Homo sapiens: one gene and its partners. The protein of the gene in region 1 purifies or fractionates together with the protein of each later gene. This does not show direct contact. Each region holds a gene or a part of one and is shown in the gene's direction. Other genes may lie near its edges. The genes, in order: MMP10, MAN1A1, EMILIN3 and PCSK1N.

The links.
Region 2: the proteins of MMP10 (region 1) and MAN1A1 purify together in Homo sapiens (affinity purification with mass spectrometry; 2 studies listed by BioGRID and IntAct, with this or other methods). This does not show direct contact.
Region 3: the proteins of MMP10 (region 1) and EMILIN3 purify together in Homo sapiens (affinity purification with mass spectrometry; 2 studies listed by BioGRID and IntAct, with this or other methods). This does not show direct contact.
Region 4: the proteins of MMP10 (region 1) and PCSK1N purify together in Homo sapiens (affinity purification with mass spectrometry; 2 studies listed by BioGRID and IntAct, with this or other methods). This does not show direct contact.

What each region holds. Positions count from the first base shown.
Region 1 is NC_000011.10:102,770,616-102,777,641, reverse strand, and holds part of MMP10 (stromelysin-2 preproprotein), read left to right. Parts: intron 1-865; coding exon 866-1,030; intron 1,031-1,217; coding exon 1,218-1,362; intron 1,363-2,320; coding exon 2,321-2,454; intron 2,455-4,635; coding exon 4,636-4,795; intron 4,796-5,526; coding exon 5,527-5,630; intron 5,631-6,748; coding exon 6,749-6,849; 3' UTR 6,850-7,026. UniProt on the Homo sapiens protein: Can degrade fibronectin, gelatins of type I, III, IV, and V; weakly collagens III, IV, and V. Activates procollagenase.
Region 2 is NC_000006.12:119,185,762-119,192,787, reverse strand, and holds part of MAN1A1 (mannosyl-oligosaccharide 1,2-alpha-mannosidase IA), read left to right. Parts: intron 1-2,904; coding exon 2,905-3,124; intron 3,125-4,210; coding exon 4,211-4,383; intron 4,384-7,026. UniProt on the Homo sapiens protein: Involved in the maturation of Asn-linked oligosaccharides. Progressively trim alpha-1,2-linked mannose residues from Man(9)GlcNAc(2) to produce Man(5)GlcNAc(2).
Region 3 is NC_000020.11:41,363,812-41,370,798, reverse strand, and holds the start of EMILIN3 (EMILIN-3 precursor), read left to right. Parts: upstream 1-3,980; 5' UTR 3,981-4,164; coding exon 4,165-4,331; intron 4,332-5,641; coding exon 5,642-5,764; intron 5,765-6,937; coding exon 6,938-6,987.
Region 4 is NC_000023.11:48,832,593-48,839,832, reverse strand, and holds the start of PCSK1N (proSAAS preproprotein), read left to right. Parts: upstream 1-4,222; 5' UTR 4,223-4,300; coding exon 4,301-4,414; intron 4,415-7,240. UniProt on the Homo sapiens protein: May function in the control of the neuroendocrine secretory pathway. Proposed be a specific endogenous inhibitor of PCSK1.

The sequences.
Region 1 (7,026 bases):
TGTTTCTGTTTTAAACTAAAGATTGTACACATCCAATGGCACCTATTACTGGGAAGATTTTTGACAATCAAAAATTATTTGATTATGGCCAGGCACCAGTGGCTAATGCCTGTAATCCCAGCATTTTGGGAGGCCAAGTTGGGTGAATCACTTGAGACCAGGAGTTTGAGACCAGCCTAGCCAACATGGTGAAACCTTATCTCAACAAAAATACAAAAATTAGCCGGGCATGGTAGCACGTGCCTGTAATCACAGCTACTCAGGAGGCTGAGGCACGAGAATCGCTTGGACACATACTCCAGCCTGGGCGACAGAATGAGACTCTGTCTCAAAAAAAAAAATTACTTGAGTATGATGAAGAGGAGGAAGAGAAAATCAGACTAAACCCCACAAGAAATAACCACAGTCTTCTGGCTTAAAAGTTTGAACGTAAATGTTATATGATTAATTTTAACCAAGGTTGCAACTGGCAAGTGTTCCTAAATTTGAACAATGACTTTTTATTTTTAGACAACGAAGAGTTATATTTACTGACATGCTATTAGTCTTGTCCTTTCAAAAAAAAATCTTTTGAAAATAATGCTTCTCATTTGTCAATATAGGAAAAGTGTCTTAGTTTTCCTGACCAAGGAGGGATCTAGGGAGGGATACGGTGAAAAACTGTCTTATATATTGACTTAAAGTCAACCTTGAAAAACACATTAATTTCTATAAAGTATGGAATGTGCCAATCAATGAACCAATCCACAAATACTGAAAAGACATTGTGGTTTCAAGGATGGCCTGTACAGCTGGCATATGTTCTGTATGTGTATTTATGGAAGAAAGAGCTGGTGAATTCTGAACATTTATGATTTTCATACAGGCACCAATTTATTCCTCGTTGCTGCTCATGAACTTGGCCACTCCCTGGGGCTCTTTCACTCAGCCAACACTGAAGCTTTGATGTACCCACTCTACAACTCATTCACAGAGCTCGCCCAGTTCCGCCTTTCGCAAGATGATGTGAATGGCATTCAGTCTCTCTACGGTGAGTGATGCTGGAAAAATTAGGCATTGCAGATCTACAATGACAGTCCTCCAGAAAGCTTTCCAGTGCTACCTAAAGTATTTCTGATTTGGCCTGAAGCACTTTGAGAATGTTTGAAAGGCACACAAATTGACAGATGCATCACATTTTTTTTTAATGTTTGCATCCCCAAATCTGTTTCCTTTAGGACCTCCCCCTGCCTCTACTGAGGAACCCCTGGTGCCCACAAAATCTGTTCCTTCGGGATCTGAGATGCCAGCCAAGTGTGATCCTGCTTTGTCCTTCGATGCCATCAGCACTCTGAGGGGAGAATATCTGTTCTTTAAAGACAGGTCAGACCAGAAAATTATATTTTCCTATCTATTCTTTTGATGTACAGTGCTTAGAAAGAAAAACAGAAACTTGACAGAGCTTTTTTTTTAATTTTAGGTTCAGGGGTACATGTGCAGGTTTGTTATATAGATAAACTCGTGTCACAGGGGTTTGTTGTACAGATAATTTTGTCACCCCAGTACTAATCCTAGTACCCAGTAGTTACTTTTTCTGCTTGACAGAGATTTTTTAAAATATAAAATTTCCTCTACATTTTAAAATCATTCAGATCTAGTTCTTGCTGAATTTTTAACATCTTCTTAGAATTGTCCAGATCATTTTTTACAGACTTATAAGGGATGATTCTTGGTCCCTAGACTGTAAGTTTGATTAAGGCAGGGAGTTATATCTGTTTCGTTCATTTTTTTAAAATATCATATATCATGGAACTTCTTCAGAAAGCACTGGTGGATCCTTAGAAGCAGGGTGGTATCTTTCCATTTACTAATATATGCTACTATTTAAATTAATTACTTTTGGAAAAAAGTGATATGTGCTTGTGGCACAATATTTAAACACTACCAAAAGATACGGAGTTAAAAAATCTCTCTCCAGTCTTTGGCCTACCGTCCTCCAGCTCCCTTCATATGTGCAACCACTGCTACCAATTTCCTTTGACTCTTTACAAAAATGTTCTACTCATATACAAGCATCAATATACACATAATATTTTTTAAAATATTAGGACATAATATGCACACTGTTTATGGACTTTTAGAATGGAACCAAGCTAAATAATTTTACTGGAACCAGTCACAAGTCCTGCCATCGATTTCATTACCCTGGAATCACATGCAGGAGGATGGTTTAATACAGACTTCTATGAATGGGTGAATTAGCATGGATTTAAAAAAAAAGAATTTTTTTTTCACATATCTAAAAGAGAAAGACAATTGCAAGTAATTTTATGTATTACAGATATTTTTGGCGAAGATCCCACTGGAACCCTGAACCTGAATTTCATTTGATTTCTGCATTTTGGCCCTCTCTTCCATCATATTTGGATGCTGCATATGAAGTTAACAGCAGGGACACCGTTTTTATTTTTAAAGGTGAGTACTATATAAGAATTTCAACTTGCTGGAATAAATCCTATTGCAAAAATTTTATTGACATGAGTTTTATCCATTATATTAAAGTTTAGATTACTGAAAGACCTTGTGCTAACACTTAAATAAAATTTGTACAAAGAACATTATAAACTTTATTTTAGAGACCTCTTAAGAAAATAGGTGGCATTCCATATTCATAAAAAATGCAAGATAGTAAAAATGTCAATTTATCTATAGATACAAGACATTTTCATTTCAAATACCAAATGCCAAAAGATTTTTCATGGAACTTGACAAATTAGTTTTACAATTTATATGGCAGAGGAAAGGCCAAGAATAGCCAGGATGCTCCTGGTGAACCCATCTTATTAGATGAGGAGAAAAGCCCTGTGTTATAAAACTTTAATCGGTAAGATGTAGTATCAGTGCAGGGAGAGATAAATTAACTAATGGAGATATTCAGGTATAGAGGCTTCTTTATCAGACTTTTAAACTACTGTTTCAATTTGTTTTATTGGTAATATGCTATTAGAGTTTCTATTACTTCTTGAGTCAGTTTTGTTAACATGTTTTTCTAAAAATTTGCCAATTTTGTCTGTTTTCAAATCCATCAGAAAAAGTTTTTGGAAAATTATTTTGTTGTAATTTGAATTATTGCTGAAGTTTTGTTTTCTTTTTCATTCTTAATACTGAATCCTTTTGCCTTTCTCTTTTTTCTTCATCAATCTCATAATATATGTAATAATTTTACTGATCTTTTCAAAGGACTGACTTTTGGCTTTATTTACTCTCTATATTATATTTTGATTTCCCGTTTAATTAGTTTCTGTTCATATCTTTATTGTTGCCTTAATTTTTGTTTACTTTGAATTGATCCTGTTATTATTGTTATAGCTTAAGTTTGATACTTACCTTATTAACTTGTAACTTTTTTCTTTTCTAATACAAGCATTTATACCTATAAATAACCATTTCTTCTGTTTCATCCAGCAAATTTCGATATGCAGTATTTTCATTTTGTTCAATTTTAATTCTTTAATTTCTCATTTTTATTTTTTCCCTAGACTCATAGGTGATAATGGAATATTTTTAAATGTCAAGCTTTATGGAGATTTTAAAAATATTTATTTCTGGCAATCTCACTTATGTGAAGATCAAATGAATGTGAAATTGCAGTAGAAATTGTAAAGGATTACATAACTCTAACGTATTGTTATCAAGTAATGTATCTCACATTTACATATCACTTGCACTGTGTCAGACGCCATTCTCATTGGTGGAGGTCAGGACTGAAAAGGGCTCATATTCTAGAAGGGGCAGCAGAGATGAAGCCTTTGGCAGCCTACATATGACAAGTGCTGGGACTGAGAGAAGGAAGGGTGCCATGGGAGCACCTGACTCATACCCAGGACTCAGCAAAGATCCCTTAGGGGAGGTGATGTTAGGATGGGTCTTAAAGTTCTCTATTGTTGTGCAGAGATGGGCTGGGTGTACAGAAAGTAGAAAGGTCTTTAAGAAAGAAGAAATTGTTTTTACCAAGTAAGAGCATATCTGGAACTGCTCAGACAGATACAAGTCATTCGGTTCAGACGAAGCAAGAGAGATAAACAACAGATGGACATTTTAGATTAGTGAATCTGGCAGTGAGTGCGAAGAAGGAATTCAGGCTTGGGGTCTGGGAGAGTGATGTAACAAAGTAAATGCAGAGAGATTGATGGGATTTTATTGTCCTAACTCACTAGAATTTGAATGAATTCCGATAGTGTTCACAAGAAGCACAGATTGGAATTGGTGACTGTGAAATATCTCAAAGGAAGTGTCCAATAAGCAACTGATCTATTGGTATGAAACTTAAGAGAGAGAGGTCTAGGTGAGAAATTCAGGTTAAAAGTTTACCAACAATTATAAGAAATAACTAAAACTGATCTATAAATAAACTATAACATATAGATACAAATATATAAGACACAGAAAGGGCAGTGAATCAGAGTTATCTACTCATTTATTCATTCATTCATTCACTCGCTCATTCAGGGAGTATTTATTAAGGACTGGCTGTGAACTGGACATTATTAGGTTGGAATTAAAACCAAGCCTTCCTCTTTACCACAACAATGCACTATAATTATTTTTAAAATCAATGGCTTCAAGTAAAATGTCTTGGATTTATTTTTTCAATAGGAAATGAGTTCTGGGCCATCAGAGGAAATGAGGTACAAGCAGGTTATCCAAGAGGCATCCATACCCTGGGTTTTCCTCCAACCATAAGGAAAATTGATGCAGCTGTTTCTGACAAGGAAAAGAAGAAAACATACTTCTTTGCAGCGGACAAATACTGGAGGTGAGATGCAAGAGAAATGACTTTCTATGAAGCCTGATTAAGAAAATTATTTTCTTTCTTTAAGGATATTTCCCTACCCTACACCCACCCTCTAACTTTCTCTAACTTCAAAATTTATGATTATGAGGAAGACAGCTTATTGTTCTACCTTCCGGATACAAAGGCCTCTCAGAATGGTGATCACTGGGCCATATACTCAGACACTAAAAGACATCAGGAGAGGCCAGCTGAGGTCCAAAGGCATTCACCTCTTATTCCATTTCCAGTCACCATGTGGCTGCCATAGGAAGCCCAGGTGTGGCAGGCTTTGGAGACAGGATCTACAGGGTCCCAGTGTGACTGAGAACCAGAGGTTTATTTTTAGCTAAGTGATTTAATTAATTTTGCATTATGAATTCATTATGTCTACACAGTCTTTATGTATTTATAGTAGACACAGGGAAATTTGGTTTCTGTGTGTCCAGGCTTAGAAAATTTACCTCAGACATATGTATGGAACCTCTGTAAAATGGCATAATGTTCCTGTTTCTGGAAAATATTGTTTTATGTGTTAAACTTGTAAGCCCAGGAAAGTAACCTATTCTTGTAGCTCTAAAAATGTTTAACACTTTTTTACACAACTTAAAAAGTTTGTCTAGGATTCCACACTGGAAAATTAACATCACATTATACTATTGTGTGTAATGGGACTACTGCACATCATTGAACTGTATTTCTTTCATTTGGTTTAGATTTGATGAAAATAGCCAGTCCATGGAGCAAGGCTTCCCTAGACTAATAGCTGATGACTTTCCAGGAGTTGAGCCTAAGGTTGATGCTGTATTACAGGCATTTGGTAAGAAGACCCTTATTTCATTGTCATGCAGGAATCTCCAGGCATTTTTATGATTTCAAAATAAAGTGCAGAATCAAAACAGTTTTTAAATCATTCAGTCTGATATCTTTTTTACTCCAAATTCCTGAAAATCTTAACTTTCCAATTTATGCAAAGTGGGTTTAAATTTGTGTGTGTGTGTGTGTGTGTGTGTGTGTGTTTTCCTGAATAACTTCCTAGTCTCTGTTTCATATCCGCACATAAAATCAAAGGATACTTCCTCACACAGAAGCCATTATCTTTCAGGTCACTATGTTGGTATAAAAATACAATCTGTGTGAGCCAGGCTTACTGATGGCTGGTTGTCATTCTACTCTATCCCATCCTGTTGTCCCTTTTCTTCTATCCCACCCCAGGGGAGCCTTGTCTGGGCTTCTGTTGCAGTCTGCGATTGCCTGCATTAGTCATTTGTAAATAAAATACTAGTCCTCCCATATGCTCAAAATAGGTCAAATGTGATTCCTGGTAATGGGCAAATAGGAAAGCAAAACTTGTTCTTGATTACTCTGAAGGAATTTTGGAGGGAGCTGCCAGTGCTTGACAATCCAATGGTCATGAGGCTGATGATCTTGTTACTAAAATGACTTAACCATGATGGATGCAAAGCAGGAAATGGACCTCTGGCTCATTTATCATTTGTCTGATTCTCTTGGGTCTAGTTGTCTCCCAAACTGTAATTTAGAACCTAGCAGAAGAGGGGAGGTTGGAAAGAAAGTAAAACAAGGTTTTAAAATATTATAGAATTTTATCTCTTTAGAACCAGTATGACGTAATGTTTTAGAGCACTTCCTTTGGAGTCAGATGAGATGGAGTCCTCCCTCCTTCCTTCCTTACAGATGCTACCTTGTTAAAATTACAAAACCGTCTTAATTTTTAGTTTTGTTCTCATTAATAACACATCACAGTTTTTTGTAAGGGTAATTGAGATAAAGCATGTAAAGCACTTAGCTCAGTGCTTGGCATAGAGTAATCACTTAATAAATGCCCTCCATTATTAACTTGTACTTAATCTAAGTTATATGTGTTGCAAAATGACATATTTGAAGATGTCTCATCATTTTCCTTATCTATATTTACAGGATTTTTCTACTTCTTCAGTGGATCATCACAGTTTGAGTTTGACCCCAATGCCAGGATGGTGACACACATATTAAAGAGTAACAGCTGGTTACATTGCTAGGCGAGATAGGGGGAAGACAGATATGGGTGTTTTTAATAAATCTAATAATTATTCATCTAATGTATTATGAGCCAAAATGGTTAATTTTTCCTGCATGTTCTGTGACTGAAGAAGATGAGCCTTGCAGATATCTGCATGTGTCATGAAGAATGTTTCTGGAATTCTTCACTTGCTTTT
Region 2 (7,026 bases), on another chromosome or scaffold:
GGAATCAGGTGCTTTTGCGATTAAGTATTTTATGTGGTAATACATATATTCTTTTAATATTATTATCAAGGCTTCTCAAGTAGTGTTGTAAAATAGTGGCTCAGTCCTCAGAAAAATTTTATTTTTCTTGACAGCTTAGAAATTTTTTAATAAAGTGTTAATTCATAGGAAAAAAATGGAAATTTGTAATCCCAAAGATGTAGCCATTATAAAATTGGTCTTTCTAACAAGAGGTCTGGGTTATTTTGACATAGGCGTACTTTTTTATTTAAATATAAATGCAGCTTGCTTTGTTCTGGTTAACTACACTGAGTATGACATTGGTTTCCTTTACAAGTCTTCACTACTTCACATGTAGGAACCAGAAGCGCCTTAGTGAGAACGTTGGCCTACATTTGGCACAGCCTTTATAAAGGCACATGATTAACATCAAAAGCAAACTAGGATATGATCCACATGGCCTCTTTTAGGTTTATTTTTCCTCATTGCTGTGAGGTTTCAGATTTTAACCTGGGGAGTTCTCCATATTTTATAGTTTCCATTCTGTCATCCTCTAATTACCATACTGGCAGACATTTTAATTATTCTAATCTTAAATTGGCCGTCTAAGATCTTGATGTTCAAAAAAAGACAGCTTTAAAATATTATTTGAAATATTTTCTTCCTAATTCCTAAAACCATACCCACACAACTTTTAGTATATTGTATTCAGACAAATCATTGACAGGAAAATCCATTAAGAACAAATGAAGTCAAAGTGTTTCCTGCTTCTCTTAGTAGTAAAAGCTAATTTTCAATCCACTGTATATTTTCAACTTAGAAAGCAAAGCTAGAACAACTAAATTTCTGTTTTGAGAAGTAGCATTGTCTTATACAGCAAAGTTTATTTCTGCTAAGTTGTACTTTAGAAGATTATTGTAACCAAGGGGAGGATGCTGTACACTATTGTTCTGGACAATTGATTACTGAAGATATGGCTACTCTGTTGTAGCTTCAAGTAGATTTTGGGAAGCATTTAATCCCAGAGTGATATGTTTTATTTGATTATTTTAATAACAAAATATTTTGAGCTTTCAACTGGCTATCATGGCCCTATCTGGAGACTACACTAGGAACTCACAATGGCAAATGATACCTGGGCAGAAGACATATCAGACACTTACGATTCTGAAGGCTTCATCAAACCAGTTTTTTAAATCAATTATACAAGGATTAAATCACAAAATATATAGTACTCTTTTTTCTAATCAATTATCTGTATCCTTGACACAGTTTTTTCAGATCTACTAAAGACTATCCTTCTTTGTATTTATTTATATTTCCCATGGCCACACAAAATTATTGCTTTGAAGGTCTTGGAATTTCATTGTAGTTTTTATTAGGAGGTAGCAACTTGGTCCGAATCATGCCAGAAATACTTTATTTAGGATCCATAACAGGGTAATAATGTTTCTCTAATTCATCCTCAAAAGCTACTACTCTTGCCATGTAGAAAGAATAATTTCTTAGGTGATGAACAAGTATCTGCTTGAAGGACTTTATTGCAATTTGTGTTATGAGAAGTATAAATAGCTAAGATGTTCAGTCGCATAAAATAAGAATGAAATATTAATGTAATAACTAAACCATCAATAACATTAGCTTAACCACGGTTAATGAGCACAGTAATATGTTCATTTATTTCTTACCATCTTGGTTTCATTCGTTTATTTCTAATAAAGGTAGGAAAGGTTTTAGCTTCCTGTGTGTTCATTTTCATTCATTCTTCTCTATCACAAGTTTTTTTCTGTGTCTATTATTCCCAAATGTGCTTCCTAACAAATCCCTCTCTCTTGATAGCAGTGTACAGGTATAGACACAGTCATGTCCTTTTTCCTTCCATGAAGTAATTGTGGGGCAGTGGGGAGAACATTTTCTGTTAGAGTAATTGGAGATTAGCAATGCCAAACACACTTTATTTTTGCTTTTTAAAATATAAGGCATATTTTACTTACCTGTCTAGTTTAAGAGAATATCAACAGACCTGGGATAGAAATAAAAGATGTTTTATAAATCATTTTTGTAAACATTATCATTTCTCCCAAATTTAAAGATTTTTCTGATTTTTAAAATATATACATTTATTCATTATATAATAGTGTGCTTTTTAATAGAAGTATTAGAGAGGAACTTGATTCAAGCGTCACCACTTTGGAGATGTAAATGATAATTATAAATGACTCTTATCAAGTGCCACTTGCATTAGTGACTGCTTTATAAACAAAATGTGGCAGAGTCGTATCAGGAGATCCTGTTGTTCCCATTTATGGATTAGGATGCTGAGATTTAGAGATATAGTAAGCAAATTGTTCACTCCCACAAATTAGAGATAGTGTCAGAGCTGGAATTTGAAGCCAAGTCTTCTGGCCCCAGAACACCTCCTCTTTGCCACTCTATTTTGTTATCCCTCCAAGCCTACAGAAGTGAAAGGAAGAGTTCTGCCACCATCCTGGATCTCATGCACAAATATGCTGTGTTCTTCATCCACCTTAGGGCCTGGGCTGTGTTATTTCACCACTTATGGAAATGAAAATGTACCAAACCAACTATTACTGCTGCACAGTGGCCTGTCTTTGGGAAGGAGAAAGTTTTTTGAATATGAGGAATACAATGTTTGGTCACAGAACCAAGCAAAACCAAATGTGCTGGCGCAGCAGTGTTAATTCTGACTAATCAAACAAATAAGGCATAAACTAGAGGAGGAATACAGAAAGCAATAGCATGTAATTTCAGGTTGAATGGATTTTTAACACCAAACTCTGATTGTCAGGTGTATTCTATTCTTTTTTTTTTAATGTTGGGCATATTTTTAGTATAAATTTGAGAAGAGATTACAAAATGTTAAAAAATAAGTGTTTTTCACAGGCTATCGAGACTCATTTGATCCGCAAGTCTAGCAGCGGACTAACTTATATCGCAGAGTGGAAAGGGGGCCTCCTGGAGCACAAGATGGGCCACCTGACCTGCTTCGCGGGGGGCATGTTCGCACTCGGGGCTGATGCAGCTCCCGAAGGCATGGCCCAACACTACCTTGAACTCGGGGCTGAAATTGCCCGTACTTGTCATGAATCATATAATCGAACATGTGAGTACATGTTATTCTTCATTTATGGTCTATTCCCACATGCTTTGATTTAATGCAGTTTTGTCATTGCTGCCCTCAAAAGACTATCCGCTCTGCCTATGAAGCTTGATGATCGTGATTAATGTCTCAAAGGAATGTATATTTTATTTTAAAAGGCAATGCTTTTCTTCCTAAAAATATCTACCTTTAGTTTACCAAGAAACAAAAATCCAGGCCATAAAGAGTTAAAGCCAGCCTAATTTACTGACTTCTGCTTTTGCCAATAACATTGGGCAAGGGTCTCTATCTCCCTGCAAAGAGAAACTTAGCATTTTATTAACCATTATTAATCTTCTCCACATCCCCCATGAAACAGATCATGAATCCCACTCCCTTCTTATAAAATAGGAATTTGAAACACAAAGTGTAAATAACTGGCCTTCTGTTACGAAATTACTTAGGATTGTCAACCACTAAGTTTCTGGCTAACTCAAATGGTATTTCATGGTGCCTTGTATCTGCCTGGTGGGTGCTCAGTAAATGGGGGTTAAATGAAAAAAATAAATTGTTAATATTTTCTAAAATGGACTCTTTTCAATGACTAAATTGTTTAAGTATATGAATATTATATATTACATGATGTTTATAACTCGTTTTTAAAATGACTACTTTGACATTTCTCTTCAGTGTTGTTAAAGTACAGTCAGACCTTCGTATCCCTGGGTTCCACAACTGCAGATCAGAAATGTTCCCAAAAAATGGATGGTTCTGTCTGTAGTGAACATTTATAGAGTTTTTGTTCTTATCTTTATTCCCTAAACAATACAGTATAACACCTAGTTACATAACATTTACACTGTATTAAGTAGTATAAGTAAACAAGGTGATTTAAAGTATATGGGAGGATGTACCCAGGTTGTATGCGAATACTTTGCCATTTTATATAAGGGACTCAAGGATCCATGGATTTTGTTATCCTCGGAGGGTCCTGGAACCAGTCCCTCATAGATACTGAGGGATGACTGTACTTTCTAGTTTCATTTAAGTTATTGACTGTAAGCACTGTCCAGGAAAATAACCCTTATTCATTCATTCCATGTCCTTTAGTTATGAAACTGGGACCAGAAGCTTTCAGATTTGATGGTGGTGTTGAAGCCATCGCTACAAGACAAAATGAAAAATACTACATCTTACGGCCAGAAGTTATGGAGACTTACATGTATATGTGGAGACTGACTCATGATCCAAAGTACAGGAAATGGGCCTGGGAAGCCGTAGAGGTGATGTTTTAATTTGCATGTTTCTTATAGATAAATTTCATAGTAAAAAATGTTCAGTGATACCCATAAATCAGGCTTATCAACTTTTCTATAATTTTTAATGCTTCGACCAGGATTTTTTCCACCCAGGACTGTGTATTTTCATTGAAGTCATTTTATATCCCTGGCTTCAGCTTTGCTTTGTATAACATTGATATAGATATATCTACTGATAGACTTAGATATTGAAGGAGATAACTAGAAAGGCATAGTCTAAAATTAAGTTCCCATTAATACAAAAATGATGATCTCTTAATTCCACCTAAGGGTTGTTGGCAGCTTGGGGTATTCACCTCTATTTCAATAAACCACTTCATGTTTTTTTCTGTCTTTGGGCTTTAAAATGCTAGTATATGCTTTTACTTAGAGTAAATAGCTACTTAGATCTAACTTTTAGAAAGCACTTATAGAAGAATTACTTTGTATAAGGATATTCCTTTACCAGTCTCAGGTTTCTTGGAATATCTATAAGCTTTCCATCTGCCCAGTGTGTTGTTTTGTCTGTCACCTCTTGGGTCTCTTCCTGCTGAGGATAGTATACCTCCTTCCTAAACCAATCTAGTGAATGCTTTGTGTGCCGAATGCCTGAGGAGGCAACCTGCAGGATATGCATCTAACAATGTCTGTCTAATTGTAAGAGTTATTATTCCTCAAGGAGTGGGAGGGAATTCAGGGGATAAGAACAAGCAAATTCTTTAATTACACTCTCATTCTCTAGCACTCTTTGTTAGAAAGTTAGCTATCTTTAAAAACTGTCCATGAGGAATGACTTCTCTCAGGAAATCTAAAATGAATATTGCCTTTGGTAAAATTTAACTAATATCTTAGGAAGCCATCGGTGAATCTTGCTTATTATCCTCTTCATTTAATATGTGTCTTATCATTAATCATCAGTCATTTTAAATAACAGCAATTCTCTAGGCCTCTTTGAGGGGGCAGTTTTATTACATTTAATCAGTAGTCATTGTAATTTCTTTACATTTCTGTTTTTTTCCTCTGGAGAAAATGTTAAAGTTGAAGCTTTTCTAAACTTTGGTGATAGGGAATTGTTTTGGTCTTCAATTGGCCAGCAAATGAATTGAATATTTTAAGTTGAAAATATCAGGAATGGTGTGTTCCATCAAATCTAAAACACCATAATTAGTAAGAAGCATCATTATTTTATATACCACTAAGAAAAATAACACTACCAATTAAGTTATGACATCCATTTTATAGATGTTAGAATGTACAAAATGTATGGCCGAGAAGGTATCAAAAATGGGAAGTAAGCAAATTCGTATTGCCAGGTAGACAGGATGCTTTGGTTTGCTGTGTTCTTCAGGGGGTTGCTTGTTTATGAGATCATAAGGTTGGTTTATGTGTTATGATTTTTATTTCTTGTCAACTCTTTAACATAATATATGACCTGAAATCGTTTCCCTGTGTCACAACACTGAGGTCTCAATTTTGGGGATGCCCCCAGTAACCTCTGCTAGAACCTGAGCTATAGTGGTGAGCCAGGAGTGCTGTAGGGTCTTGCATTTTTTAAACCAGAAAAACTGGGACTTCGAAGGCATGGCCGCACGTTTTTCCCCTGGTGTTATGCCCACCCCCGTGGCCTCCTGTGTTTCAGCAGCAGCCCCGCATATGCTTGCAGCTCCCACCTCCAGCACTTGGCTGTTCTGATGCATACTTGAGACCACAGCTGGAAACCATGTCAGGAAAAGAAGGTGGAAGAGCTTTTCCCTAGCCAGCTGGCTGTGGTCTGGGAAGTGCTGGGGAGTTAATGGCTGTCAACCAAGGAGGTTTTGGAGTTGGTGGATAACTGTCCCAGTCTTCTTTCCTTCAAGAATCATTCTGGAATGCATGCTACATGGTTCTTCAGAGGGTTTCTAGCAGGAGTGAGCCTCGTTGCACACAGTTGAACAATATGATTCATTGGCTCTTCTGTCCCTGTTTTGCTTTTCCCACTTGCCCACTTCCTGATGTCACCTCCCTGATAGACTTCCTGCATCCTGCGTCCAACCCTTGTCTCATGCTTTATTTTTAAGGGAACGCAAACTGAAACATAGGGGGTCTTAAAAATCACCTCATCCAGCTTTCCGCTTAAAGACAAGACTCCCCTCCATATCTTTGCAAGATAGCTGTTCCTCATCAACCCAAGGACTTTCCAGCAAAGGGGAATGTATCACCTAATAAAGTAACTCATTCCAATTGGTAATATTGAAGGTGTTAGAAAGTTATTTATTTTGAAGCCACAATTTACAGTGTTCTGTGCTCTGGGGGTACCAGAGGGAAAAAATCTCCCTTCTGCATTTCAGCTCCTCAATTATCCGAAGACAGCAGGTTCTGCCATCTCTTCCTTTCCTCATCCATCATTTCCCTTGATTTTCTTCTCCTGACCTGGTTTCCAGCTGTGGTCTTTTAGGGCTGAATAGTGTGAACCTCTCTTCTCTCTTCGCAGTGTGATTTTTTCACAGCTTATGGTCCAACTTGTTCTTTTAGTAGATTTATATTTAAAAAAAAAAAAAAAAAAAAACTGGGAGGCCAAAGTGGGTGGATCATGATCATGGTCAGGAGATCGAGACCATCCTGGCTAACACGGTGAAACCCCGTCTCTAC
Region 3 (6,987 bases), on another chromosome or scaffold:
TCAGGAGAATTGCTTGAACCTGGGAGGCAGAGGTTGCAGTGAGCCGAGATCACGCCACTGCACTCCAGCCTGGGCAACAGAGTGAGACTCCGTAAAAAAAAAAAAAGAAAAGAAAAAAAAGAAAAGAACAGAAAAGAAAGGCAGGATGCATAGGGCTCACCCCTGCAGTCCCAATACTTTGGGAGGCCAAAGCAGGAGGATCACTTGAGGCCAGGAGTCTGAGACTAGCCTAGGCAGCATAGTGAGACCCCATCTGTACGAAAGGAAAAACTCATGCACATGCATGATAGTGGTATGGGGGATGGGTTGGGTGTGGTTGTGCATGTCCCTGTGAACTGAAACTGCACTCCCACTCCCGTGTATGGCCCGTTTCCATCCAGGTGTAGAAACTCCAGTCTGAGTCAGAGGAACATGACTGCCTCCTTTCCTCCTCTGCTTCTGGCCTCCCTAGGTTTCCTGTCTGGCAGATGCAAAGTGGCCTCATCGTCTATGGGGGGACCCCCGCTCTGGCCTGATCCAGCCAAGACCCTGAGCATCTCCCTGTACTGAGGTCCTCCACCCCCACTAGAATGGGGCCCAGATCCTGGATCCCAAAACTGTTGCAGTGAAAGAGGGAGCATGGTGTTTGATGTCAGCCACCTGGGAAAGGGGGAAGTGGGGTCCAGCTATCCTTTTAGCCCCTATGACGTGGATATTTCCAAGCTCAAACAGGGTCCAGCCTCTTCCTTGTGAGTTTTGGGCCCCACATCTGGGGCTGGGGAAGGGAGTGAGAGGAAGGGGTGGGACCACTTGGAAAAAGATCACAGCCTCTGGGGTGGGGGAGTTCCTCCCAGAGCCAGGCTGGGCAATGCTGCCAGGCAGTCAGCACCCAGCCTAGGATGAGGAGCTGGCTCAGATGTTTCTCACTTCCTAAAAAGCGCAAAGTCAGTGGTTACAAGATCAAGAGCTTGTTGGGGATATGGTGTATCTTGCCCTCAGCAAAATGGTTCATAACATCTCTCTTAGAGGTTGGAGCATATAATAGCACATTCGGTGCTTTTATAGGGAGAGTGAAAGGCTGTCTTAGGGACCATGTGGTTGCTGTAAGACTATACTTTCAGGGATCATTTCTACAGTTCATGACTAGAGAAGTTTCTCTCTGTAGAGCACATTTGGTTGCTGGGATCAGAAACCCATTCAAGCTAGCTCCAATGGTGGACTACTGGAAGCAGATAGGGAAGTCACAGCTTGTCCCCAGATGGTTACTCACCACATAGCCCCTGACTCTGCCCCTCTCTCCCCTGACCACACTCTTTCTCCCTTTCCCATGATTCCCCCAGAGCTCTCGTGGTCTCTCCTATCATTACCAGCCAAGTGCCCCTGTAGTGGATTGAATTGTGCCCCTCCCAAAATTCATGAACATTTGGAACCTCAGAATGTGACCTTATTTGGAAATAGGGTCTTTGTAGACGTAATCATTTGAGATGAGGTTATGTTGGGCTGTACATCCAATGACTGGTGTCCTTATAAGAAGAGGAGGCTGGGCTGGGTGCAGTGGCTCACGCCTAGAATCCTAGCAATTTGGGAGACTGAGGTGAGAGCATCACTTGAGCTCAGGAGTTTGTGACCAGCTTGGGCAACAAAGTGAGAGCCCATCTCTACAGAAATTTTAAAAATGAGCTGTGCATGGTGGTGCACAACTGTGGTCCCAGCTACAGAGGAGGTGGGGGCAGGAGGATCACTTGAGCTCAGGAGGTCGACGCTGCATTCCAGCCTGGGTGATGGAGCTAGACCTTGTCTCTATTTATTTATTTATTTATGGAGATGGAGTTTCGCTCTTGTCACCCAGGCTGGAGTGCAATGGCATGATCTCGGCTCATTGCAACCTCCACCTCCAGGGTTCAAGTGATTCTCTTGCCTCAGCCTCCCAGGTAGCTGGGATTACAGGCGCCCGCCACCACGCCCGGCTAATTTTTTTATTTTTAGTAGAGATGGGGTTTCACCATATTGGCCAGGCTGGTCTCAAACTCCTGACCTCAGGTGATCCCCCCACCTCGGCCTCCCAAAGTGCTGGGATTACAGGCATGAGCCATCGCGCCCAGCCCTGTCTCAAATTTAAAAACACAACCAGAAAGGCAGGGCGCGGTGGCTCACGCCTGTAATCCTAGCACTTTGGGAGGCCGAGGCGGACGGATCACGAGATCAGGAGATCGAGACCATCCTGGCTAACACGGTGAAACCACGTCTCTACTAAAAAAAAAAAAAAAATACAAAAAAATTAGCTGGGCATTATGGCGGGCGCCTGTAGTCCCAGCCACTCGGGAGGCTGAGGCAGGAGAATGGCGTGAACCCGGGAGGCAGAGCTTGCAGTGAGCCGAGATCGCGCCACTGCACTCCAGCCTGGGCGACAGAGCGAGACTCTGGCTCAAAAAACAAAAACAGAAAGAAGAGGAAAGGACACAGATCACAGTCACAGAGAAAAAAAGGTCACCTGAAGAGGGATATGCGGAGGGAAAGTAGAGGCTGGAGTGATGCTGCTACAAAGAATCCTTGACCAAAGAACGCCAGAGATTGCCAGGAACCACCAGTGGCTGGAAGAGGCAAGGAAGGCTTCTCCCCAGAGCCACTGGAGGGGGCATTGCCCTGCTGGCCCATGGATTTTGGAGTTAGCCTCCAGAAATGTGCAAGAATACATTTCTGTGTGTTAAGCCACTGAGTCTGTGGCTGTTACCACAGCCCTGAGAAACTCACACAACCTACACCTGGAAGCTGGATTCCTTCAGCTTCTGTGTTCTGATTCCAAAGCCTGGGGGAAAGCAGGATGGGCCTAGCTGGGGTCAGATGTCCGCCCCACAGAACCCAAAAGCCACTAAAGCTAAGGGCAGGAAATAGATGTGGGTTTCGGAGCTGCCCCTTCCAGTATCCTTGATAACCATCACCCTATCCAAAAGGCATTAATTCATATCTCAAGGTCAATTTGGAGGGAGGTCTCTCCAAGCAAGCCCCAGAGTTCTGTACACCTATCAGCTCCTGGGGCAAAGACACAGACGGCTGTAGCCACCGGTGTGGATGAGACAAGGCCAGGAAAGTACCGCTCTGATGACAGAATCAGAAGGACTCTGTGCAGGTTAGAGAGTTAGCAAGGTGATACTGAATGAGGACGACGATAAAACCCAACTCTTGGGTTCCAAGAGTCAACTTCACAAGCAAAATGTGGACGACGCCTGGCTTCACCGCGGCAGTGCCTTGTGAGAAAGACCTGAGGATTTTCTCTGACCAGCCGGCTTAGAGCTTCAGTTGCACGAAAAGCACAGCACTTTTGGCTGGGCTGGGGCGGTGATAGGCCTTTCGGGCTCGGTGCAACCCATACCTAAGACAGAGAGGCAACACAGGCGCCTCCAGAGAACCAGAGGTGCAACCGGGCCACCAGGCTACGTGGCAGAGGTTGCGGGGTAAGGGGGAGGTGGGATGCCTGGGGAGAGGTCAGCGGAGTTATCAAACTAAGGTTCCCGGGCAATGATGGGGCCAGGAGGCAGAGCGAGCAAACGGGGATGATCTGGGGTCTATTCCAAAGAGGTGGCGGGGGAGGTGGTGCTGCTGTGCCCCCAGTCACGGCCATCTCGGCTCCAGAGCCCTGGAGAGCAGTTCCCGGGTTCACACGGACTCTGAAGACAAGCGTATCCTGAGGGTGGACGACTCCTGGAAAGTCCACGCCCAGGCTGGCCTCAGGGGTCCGCTTCTCTGCGTCTCGCCCCGTGCCCGCAGGCGACAGAGTGGCTGGTGTGCTCGGGGGGCCTCCCAGGGCGCGGCGGCCTGCGCCCCTGCCACCTGGGGCTGCTCCCTTTGGAACCTCCTGTTCGCAGGCGGCTCCTCGGCCGTCCGCTCGGAGCTGGGGCGAGGGGCTGGCGGCGGCGAGCGGCGCGGCCCCAAGTTTATGCTAATCCGCAAAGAGCCCGCCTCCCGCCTCCCCTCCGCGGCCCCAGCCGCTAGCAGCGCCGGCCACTCCGCGGGACGCAGCCGCCGCGAAGCGCCAGGCGGCCGGGCCAGCGAGCTCGGGGGCCGAAGGGGACCCCGGGACCCTCGGGGCGGGACCCGGGCCGACCAGCGGCGGGGGCGGCGCGGCGCTGCAGGCGGACACCCGGCGGGGGGCACCGCGCGGGGCCGGGCAGAGGCGCGGGGGCCGCTATGGGCCGCCGCCGCCTGCTCGTCTGGCTGTGCGCCGTCGCGGCGCTGCTCTCGGGGGCGCAGGCCAGGGGCACCCCGCTCCTGGCGCGGCCTGCGCCGCCCGGTGCCTCCCGCTACAGTCTCTACACGACGGGATGGCGCCCGCGGCTGCGCCCGGGGCCGCACAAGTAAGCGCGGGCGGGCGGCGGGCGGGAAGAGGGAGGGATGGGCCCGCGCGCGTCGCCGCTCCCACCTGCCCGCACCCGCGGGGGGCGTCGAGGCCCCGGGCACCCCGAGGCCGCTGCACAGAGGGGGCGGCGCCCGGGGCCGAGCCCCTGCCCAGGCGAGCGCCCTACGCTCCGGGAGGTTGCGGGGCTGGCGAGGAAAAAGGAACCGAGGGGGCCTGGCGCGGCGGCTTGGGATCCTGGCAGTGCCAGCGGAAACCTTTCCAGCGAAGTAACATTTTCCAGCTGCGCTGTGTGCAGACTCCGGGCGAGCGGACCAGGTGGAGGGAGAGGAGGAAAGGCGGTCCGCGCGCTGAGCACGCGGGGCTCCCCCGCCCCGGGCCTCCCTTCTCTCCCCTGGCCCGGCCAGGTAGGAGATAGAGCTGCGCATCCGGGCGGCCGCTGCCCTCTCGCAGTCAGCCTGGCCCCAGCAACCCCATGGGAGCCCCAGCGTGGCCGGGCTGCAGAGCCAGAGCGGGCTCCTGGCTCCGGGCCTGTGCTGTGGCACAGCCGTCCACAGCGGTCGGCTTATGCCAGGCAGCCACCTCCTCAGCCCTTGTGGCTCATCAAGGAGCCTGCTTTCCCCGCCTCAGCTTCTGGTGTTTCGTGGGCAGTGGCTTGCGAACTGGCCTCAGTTAAGTGGGCTGGAGGCTCTGCCTGGGGTGCTGGCTGAACTTGAATTCTAGCTGAATTTGAGAGCTGTTGTAGGAGGAAGAGTACCGACACTCAGTGGGCCTGGGTACATCACAGCGAGCCTCCTGGAGGAGGTGGTACAAGAACTGCTCTGAGAGTAAGGGAACAGGACCAAAGGCAGGGGCTGCAAAACTACGAGGAGAGGTGGATTTCCCCGGGAGCCAGGCAGGGAGGAAGGACAAGACATGGTGCTCTCAAAGGAGTCACTGAGTGGGGACTCGGAAGCCTTAAATGCCAAGATAAGGAGTTTGGAATCAGCGAAGGATGGGGGGGTGTGGCAGGGCACTTGAGGGAGAATCCGGGCTGGCCTCTTCCCCACGCAGGGAGGGGCAGCCACATCAGGCTCCTGGTTCCAAATAGTGCTTAGCCCAGGGGCCACCCATCACGGAGGCTGGAATCAGAGACCAGCAGCGGGGCTGGACCCCAGACCAAGGGCGTTGGCTCCCAGGGACACAGAGAACAGACAGAAGAGACATGGGAGTTTGGAGTCCTGCTGAGGCCCACAGATGGAGGTGGGAGGGTAGGCGCCTCTGTGGGCCTCGCTCAGCCAGATATTCCAGGGGTGCCATTTTCTCCTGTAGGGCCCTCTGTGCCTATGTGGTGCACAGGAATGTGACCTGCATCCTACAGGAGGGAGCGGAGAGCTACGTAAAGGCTGAATACCGGCAGTGTAGATGGGGGCCCAAGTGCCCCGGGACAGTCACGTAAGTGCACTCCTCACCTACACACTTGGAATCCCCTGGCACAAGCGCCAGTCCTGCCTTCAGCTGAGAGCAGCTGCCAACTCCACAAGGGGCTTCTTGGACTCCAGAGAGCCCACCTGAGCCCCCATACAGGCCAGAGTAGAAGGCGGCCCCAGAAAAGAGGGTGCCAAGGAGGACCCCAGGGATTTGGGCTTGCAGCAGAGCATCACCCGCACAGACAGGGGCAGGCTTGGGTTGGAGCCCAGGAACCACAGAGGGACAAGGGGAAGGTTCTGGGGGCAGAGGCAGCACAAGGCTAGGAGGAAGTGACAGAGGCAGAAGGTGAGGGGAGAGGAGGGAGCAGAGGGCCCCTTAGGCAACGGGTGATGCCACAGGGGGGCCTGGCAGGCCCAGGGAGGACTGTGGTGACCACAAGGAGGCAGGCCATGGGGCAGGGAGAGGAAGCCGGAGCAGCAGGGCTGCACGCACATGGGATGCACAGCTCTGTACCTGGAGAGGTTCACGTGTGTGTGTGGAAACAAACCTGTTGTCTCCGGTGTGTCAGTGGGTGAACAGGTACGTGGCTGAACAGTGAGGGCATGGACCCTCGCGAGCCTGCCTGTACCCTGGACCTTCCCTTCCCTGCTCACAATCAGAGGTACCCGTCCATCTGCCTCTCTGACCAGAGCCGAGGTCCCGGAGCAGGCTAGAGAGGAGTGGAAAGAACTAAGGGGAGCAGGTAGGAGCCAAGAGTGGCCCCCAGGGCAGTGAGGGGGCTGCCAGCGCCAGCTCCAGGGCAGTGCCCCTCCCTGCCCACAGGGAGGGCTGGGGCTGTGTCTGATTCTCCCAGGTGCTACTGCAGCCTGAGTGGAATTTCTCATGGCAGCCTGAGCTAGAGGGGGTCCAAGTGGTCTTGGGAGGGATGGGGCAAAATTCCTGCTTCTCTCCAAGCTACCAGGATGGGTGGGACTTCTACCTGCATCCTTCCCTAACATGACTGTGAGCTTCAGGAAGGCCTGCCCTTACCCACCCCTGTCACCTTAAGCACAGAAAAAGTACAGCCCTGGGGGTGCTATGGAGGTGGGGAGATACCCAGCCTTATGCAAGTGTCTGAGGGCGGCCCTGAGTGCCAGCTAGGGGGAGAAGCACAGCCCTCAGGTGCAGGATCCCACTCTCTTGCCCTCCCTGGCCCAGGTACCGCACAGTACTCAGACCCAAATACAAGGTTGGCTACAAGACAGTGA
Region 4 (7,240 bases), on another chromosome or scaffold:
TACTAAAAGTACCAAAATTAGCTGGGCGTGGTGGCACGTGCCTGTAGTCCCAGCTACTGGGGAGGCTGGGGCAGGAGACTTTCTTGAACCCAGGAGGCGTAGGTTGCATTGAGCCCAGATCGCGCCACTGCACTCCAGCCCGGGTGACGGAGTGAGACCGTCTCAAAAAAAAAAAAAGGTAAAGAAGGACTCTTTTAAAAAATGGTTTAAGTGGCCGGGCGCGGTGGCTCACGCTTATGATCCCAGCACTTTGGGAGGCTGAGGCGGGCGGATCGCTTGAGGTCAGGAGTTGGAGACCAGCCTGGCCAACATAGCAAAACCCCATCTCTACTAAAAATACAGACATTAGCTGGTCATGGTGGCACACGCCTGTAATCCCAGCTACTCGGGAGGCTGAGGCAGGAGAATCGCTTGAACCCGGGAGGCAGAGTTTGCATTGAGCCGAGATCATGCCACTGCACTCCATACTGGGCAACAGAGTGAAACTCTGTCTCAAACAACAACAACAACAACAACAAAAAAAGATTTAAGAATATGTCGAAAAGCACAGAGAGATAGATTATTTTTGATGACAAAAGAAACCTCCACTGAACTAGGAAAACAATAATTTAGTTATTTCATAGTAAAAGGACACAAATTCTAATTTTACATCTTTTGTACATTATTCATGTAATAATTTCCAGTAGAGAATTTATTAATATAAGTATATGTATGTAGTTAGTTATACATGGAAATATAAATCTACAGATACAGGCCTGGCATGGTGACTCACACCTGTAATCCCAGCATTTTGGGAGGCTGAGGCAGGCAGATCACTTGAGGTCAGGAGTTTCAGACCAGCCTGGGCAACATGGCAAAAACCCCATCTCTACAAAAAATACAAAAATTAGCCAGATGTGGTGGCGTGCACCTGTAGTCCCAGCTGCTCGGGAGGCTGAGGCATGAAAATCACTTGAACACAAGGGGAGTAGGTTGCAGTGAGCTGAGATGGCACCACAGCACTCCAGCCTTGGTGACAAAGCGAGACTCTGTCTCGAAGTCAGTCAATCTACACATAGTCAATAAATTAAAAAATTTTCCACAGTTTCAAAATACAATTAACTTAGTATGATAAATAAAATTATGTATGTATTAATTATAATATTACCATTAATAAGCTGTAATAACTTTTTATTTTTATTTCTTAATTTTTGTAGTCTTTTGTCCTCGCCCCTATAACTTTTCAATAAACAAATAAAACTCATATCCATTTTCATGTATACATATTTGTATTTATCTGTAATTCTTTTTACCTAGGATAATCAACCATGCATATCAAATGTTTTTAATCTTTAATTCCTTTTTTTGAGACAGAGTCTTGCTCTGTCGCCCGGCTGGAGTGCAGTGGCGCGATCTCGGCTAACTACAACCTCCGCCTCCCGGGCTCAAGCGATTCTCCTGCTTCAGCCTCCCGAGTAGCTGGGATTACAGGCGCCTGCTGCCATGCCAGCTAATTTTTGTATTTTTAGTAGAGACGAGGTTTCACCATGTTGGCCAGGATAGTCTGGATCTCTTGACCTCGTGATCCACCTGCCTCAGCCTCCCAAAGTGGTGGGATTACAGGCGTGAGCCACCATGCCCGGCCCCTTAATCTTTAATTTTTATAAGTACATGGTGTGTATATTTATGGGATACATGAGATTTTTTTTTTTTGAGACGGAGTCTCTCCCTGTTGCTCAGGAGTGCAGTGGTGCGATCTCTGCTCACTGCAACCCATACCTCCCAGGTTCCAGCGATTCTCCTGAGTAGCTGAGATTACAGGCATGCACCACCACGCCCTGCTAATTTTTATATTTTTAGTAGAGATGGAGTTTCGCCATGTTGGCTAGGCTGGTCTCGAACTTCTGGCCTCAAGTAATCCGCCTGCCTCGGCCTCCCAAAGTGCTGGGATTACAGCACCACACCCGGCCTCACTTCATTCCTTTTTATGGCTGAATAATATTCAATGATATGGAGAAACCTCATTTTACTTATCTGTTCATCTATTGATGAACATTTGGGTTGTTTCCACTTTTTGCTATTATAAATAATGCTGCTTTGAACATTTGTGTACAAATTTTTGCATGGACTCTTATATACATTTAAAAATATGGCCAGGTGTGGTGGCTCATGCCTGTAATCCCAGCACTTTGGGAGGCCAAGGTGGGTGGATCACTTGAACCCAGGAGTTCAAGAGCAGCCTGGGCAACATGGTGAAACCCATCTCTACAGAAAAATGCAAAAATTAGCTGGGCATGGTGGGGAACACCTGTAGTCCCAGCAAGTCGGAAGGCTGAGGTGGGAGGATTGCTTGAGCCTGGGAAGTGGAGGTTGCAGTGAGCCGTGATTTCACCACTGCATTCCAGCCTGGGTGACAGAGTGAGACCCTGTCTCAAAACACAAATAAACAAACCAAAACAAATTTTATTACACATTTTATTACAGAAGGAGTAGGATTAAAAATAAAACAAAATAAAAAGTACATTTAATTGATTTTCTTTAAAATATTCAGCTGGGGTTTAAATTGAAATTACATAGAAATTATATATTAGTTTGGATAGACTTGACATCTTTATAAAATGAAATTGCCTCATCCAGGAACATGTATTGTGTCTTCATTTATTCAGATGATCTTTTTTTGTTTTTGAGACGGAGTCTTGCTCTGTCGCCCAGGCTGGAATGCAGTGGCACCATCTCAGCTCACTGCAACCTCTGCCTCTCAGGTTCAAGCAGTTCTCCTCCTCCTCAGCCTCCTGAGTAGCTGAGATTACAGGCGCGTGTCACCATGCCTGGCTAATTTTTGTATTTTCAGTAGAGATGGGGTTTCACCATGTTGGCCAGGCTGGTCTCAAACTCCTGACCTCAGGTGATACACCCACTTCGGCCTCCCAAAGTGCTGGGATTACGAGCATGAGCCACCGCGCCTGGCCTATTGTAATTTTTTTTTTTCAGACAACAGAAAAGTATAAAGGAGAAAGTAACAAACCATTAGTTACCTCCCCAGAGATAACCATTGATGACATTTCCTCCCCAACATTTTTCCCCCTATGGATACACATACATTTTTTCAAGATCTTGTTTCCTTTGATATGTCATTTTAGTGGCTTGAACTTATTTCTGGAACAATATATGGGTAAAGTCTATGCATATATGTATCTATGTATATATCTATCTATGGAAAACAAGTAGATATAGACAGTAAAATAAAGACAGAGACAAGACAGCGGTTGGAGAGATGAAAGGAGAGAAAGTCATAGACAAGGAGAGACATATGGGGAGAGGAAGACACAGAGAGAGCTGTGGGCACATAAGGGCAGAAAGATAAACACAGAGAGCCATGGAGAGATGAAAGTATTGGGCTGGGGCCAGGCATGGTGGCTCAACGCCTGTAATCCCAGCACTTTGGGAGGCCGAGGAGGGCCGATTGCTTGAGCTCAGAAGTTGGAGACCAACCTGGCAACATGACGAAACCCCATCTCTACAAAAATACAAAAATTAGCCAGGCGTGGTGGTGGGCACCTGTAGTCCCAGCTACTTGGCAGGCTGAGGCATGAGAATTGGTTGAACCCTGGAGGTGGAGATTGCAGTGAGCTGAGATCCGGCCACTGTCCTCCAGCCTGGAGGACACAGCGAGACACTGTCAGAAAAAAAAAAACACAAAGAGACAAGGAGAGGATGGAAAGGAGCATTTATGGAGCTCCTACTGAATGTCATTCTAAACCTCCAAGGTCACTTTGAGGGAGGCTGTCAGTAGTAACCCCTTTACGCCGCTGAGAGCCTGAGCCTTAGAATGGCCAACTGAGCTGTCCATGGTCACATCACCTAGATTGAACCCATCTCCCTGGCGCGGGCCGGGCCCACTGCGGGTGATCCATTAACTATTTATCTAATGAACAAACTAAAGTCCATCTCCTCCCCCAGGAAGAGAGATGAGGACCAGACCCCCATTCCACTCCACTGAGTCAATTTTTCTTGCCTGTTTTCCTGTCTACTAAGGTAACAGTAAGGTCGGTTGCCCCAGCAACTGCCCTCCGACTGCCATGGCAACCGCCAGCTCTCCACCTTGCCCTTTGGGCATCTCCATGGCGACGGGAGGTCTGGTGGGGCTGCCAGCTCCCCAGGCTGCGCCTGCGTCGGTCGGGTGGGTGGGGTGGGGGCGGGGGGGGGGGGGCCTGGTTCCGGGCGTGCGCAGCCGCAGAGCGCCGCAGCCTCGCCAGCTCGCCCCGGCACTGCGCACTTGCCAGCCAGTCCGCCCGTCCGGAGCCCGGCTCGCTGGGGCAGCATGGCGGGGTCGCCGCTGCTCTGGGGGCCGCGGGCCGGGGGCGTCGGCCTTTTGGTGCTGCTGCTGCTCGGCCTGTTTCGGCCGCCCCCCGCGCTCTGCGCGCGGCCGGTAAAGGTGCGACCCCAGTCCGGCGAGGGGTGGGGGTTGGGGGAGGATGCCACCGGCGAGGGTTGGGGTTGGGGCTGCGCCGCCTCACCCCCGCCCGAGCCGGCTCCCGGGACGTGCGGAGAGATCGACGAGGGTGGCCCGGGCTCCGGCCGCCGGTCCGCGCCCAGGCCACGCCGGCACACCTGAGACCTGACTTGGTCTCTGCCTGTGCGGGTGGCGTTGTCCGGGGCGCCGCCGGTAACCGTGCCCTGCCCACCTCTCCGTGCCCGGTGCCTGTGACGCTGTCCACGGCACTAAGGCGCTTTAAGAAAGGGCGCGCGCGCATCAGTGTGTGTGCGTGTGATGTGAGGAGAGCGGTGTGGAGGTGTCGTGTCCTTGAAAGTGTGTGTTCTTTGGTTTGAGCGCTTCCAAGTGTCCTAGAAAGGTGCCGTGGTGCGTCTGGGTGTGTAGTGTGTGTGATACCGGGATACTTCTGTGCGCGATTCTTTTGTGCGTCCGATTGTTTTCTCAGTGACACCGTGTGGATATTTGTGAATCCTTATTATGTGTGTTGGCTTGGCCTATGGGCGTGTCTCTCTCTCTCTCTCTCTGTCTCTCTCTCTCTGTGTGTGTGTGTGTGTGTGTGTGTGTGTGTGTGTGTGTGTGATTTCGTTTGTGTTTGAGAGGGAATGGTCTTCGCATCTCCGTGTGCACATTCCATAGTGGTTCTGTTGGACCAAGTGCCTGGGATTTCGTTTGCGTGTTCCTGAGACTGTTTCTCTCCGTTTCTTTGTGGAGCTGTGTCATCCTGAGGAGAGGAGCCATGATGTCTCTCTGCTGCATTGTGTCTTTAAGGATGGTGCATGTCCTTGCACCTGGGTGGCTTGGCGATTGTAACTGCAGGAGCAGCTGCGGATGTGAACGTGTGCAGGTCCTTGCATGTGGCTGTGGCAGTGTTGGGCTGTATATGTGACATCTCCAGGCCTGTCAGTCCTCATGAGTGTGTGTGAGGCTGTGATTGCTGGTGAGTGTGATACCCCGGGGTGACTGAGGAGTGGTGGGCGCCAGCAAGGGCACTTGGAGAGGCATCCTCCTCTAGCTCTTCAATACTGTCTGCATCAAAGATGGGAATTAAAAAAAACTGTTACCTTATATCCGTGTAACAATGTGTTTAATATATATGTACAATGTAAAGAATGATGACAAAATAACTCTCTCGTGTAGCAGTCACTCAGCTTAATAAATAGAGCCTGACCAAGAGTTAGAAGCCCCTGCGTGCCCCTCGCCATGGCAGCCCCTGTCCCCACACAGTCCTTATTCTGTATTTTCTGTCCATTGATCCCTTACTTTTGTTTGTAGCTTATCACATATGTGTAGCTCTCAAAAAAAATCCATTGTTTAGTTTTTCCTGCTTTTGAACATCATTGAAACGGAATCATACTGGGTGACTGGTTCCTCGTAGTCACTAGGGGTCACTAGGAAGTCCTCAGGGTGTCTAGTAGTCTCAGGCAGTCTGCAGTGAAATTCTGGAACTTGACGTTTTTTTTTCCCTTGGCTCTATTCTGGTCACGAGATTCATCCAAGTTGATGCATGTGGCTGTAATTCATTTATTTTTATTGCTGCATAATATTACATCCTATGAGGACATCATGATTTATATATGTATTCTCAATTTGTCAGTGGACATTGGACTGTTTCCAGGCTTTTCTTTCTCCCCCGCCCTTTTATGCTATTACGAACAGTGCTGCTGTCATCTTTCACGAACTTGTGACCAGTAGCGTATGTGCCAAAGCTGCTCTGGGGAGTGACATCCCAGGAGTGGGTCATAGGATATGTGCATCTTTTTAGATATTGTCAAACCGCTCTGCAAAATTACTTTGCCAGTTTAATTCTCACCAGCATAGTATGAGAGTTCCCATTTTTCTGCATTCATATCAACACTTCATATTATCAGACTTTTTGATTTGGGTCAATCTTTTGGTTATATTATGCATAGTATCTCCCTGGCATTTTAATTTGCTTTCCCCTGATTACTAATGAGGTTTTTAATTTTATTTTATGTTTGTTAGAGACAGGGTCTTCCTCTGTCATGCACGCTGGAGTGCAGTGGTGCGATCTGGGCTCACTGCAACCTTGAGCTTCTGGACTCAGGTGATCCTCCCACCTCATCTTCCCAAGTAGCTGGGACTATGGGCTTGTGCCCCGCTCATTTTTTTTGGTTTTATTTTTTGTAGAGACAGGGTCTCGCCATTTTGACCAGGCTGGTCTCAAACTCCTGGCCTCAAGCGATCTTCCTGCCTTGGCCTCCCAAAGTGCTGGGATTACAGGCATGAACCACTACACGTGGCCCAATTTTTCATATGTTTAGTAATCATTTTTGTGAAATAGGCGATCATGTATTTTTTCTATTTCTGTATGAGTTTGTTTTTCTCTTACTACTTTTTAGGAATTCTCTGTATCTTCTGTGTACTACTCTTTCATTGACTATTTGTGTTGCAGGCATCACTCCTTTTAAACATATTTATATGTGGCCTGTATGTTTCTTTTCCAAACCTTCACAGTCATTTTTATGATCTTTTATTCCTTGCTCAGATTATTGGTACCCTCTTTTATTTCTTTAAACTTGTGGAAATTGTTTGAAAACTGCTTGAACTGAAAATTTGTCATTGGGTAATTTATTCTACAGATGAACTTGTACACATGCCAAATGATATATGAACAAGTTTATTCATATAGTTCCTATTGTCCACAATATTAAATATGGAAAAATCTATAACTGTCATATCTACCATCACTACTCTTATGAAGAAACTCGGTCTCCAGGAGTGGGGGTGGGGAGGGAGGAATTATGA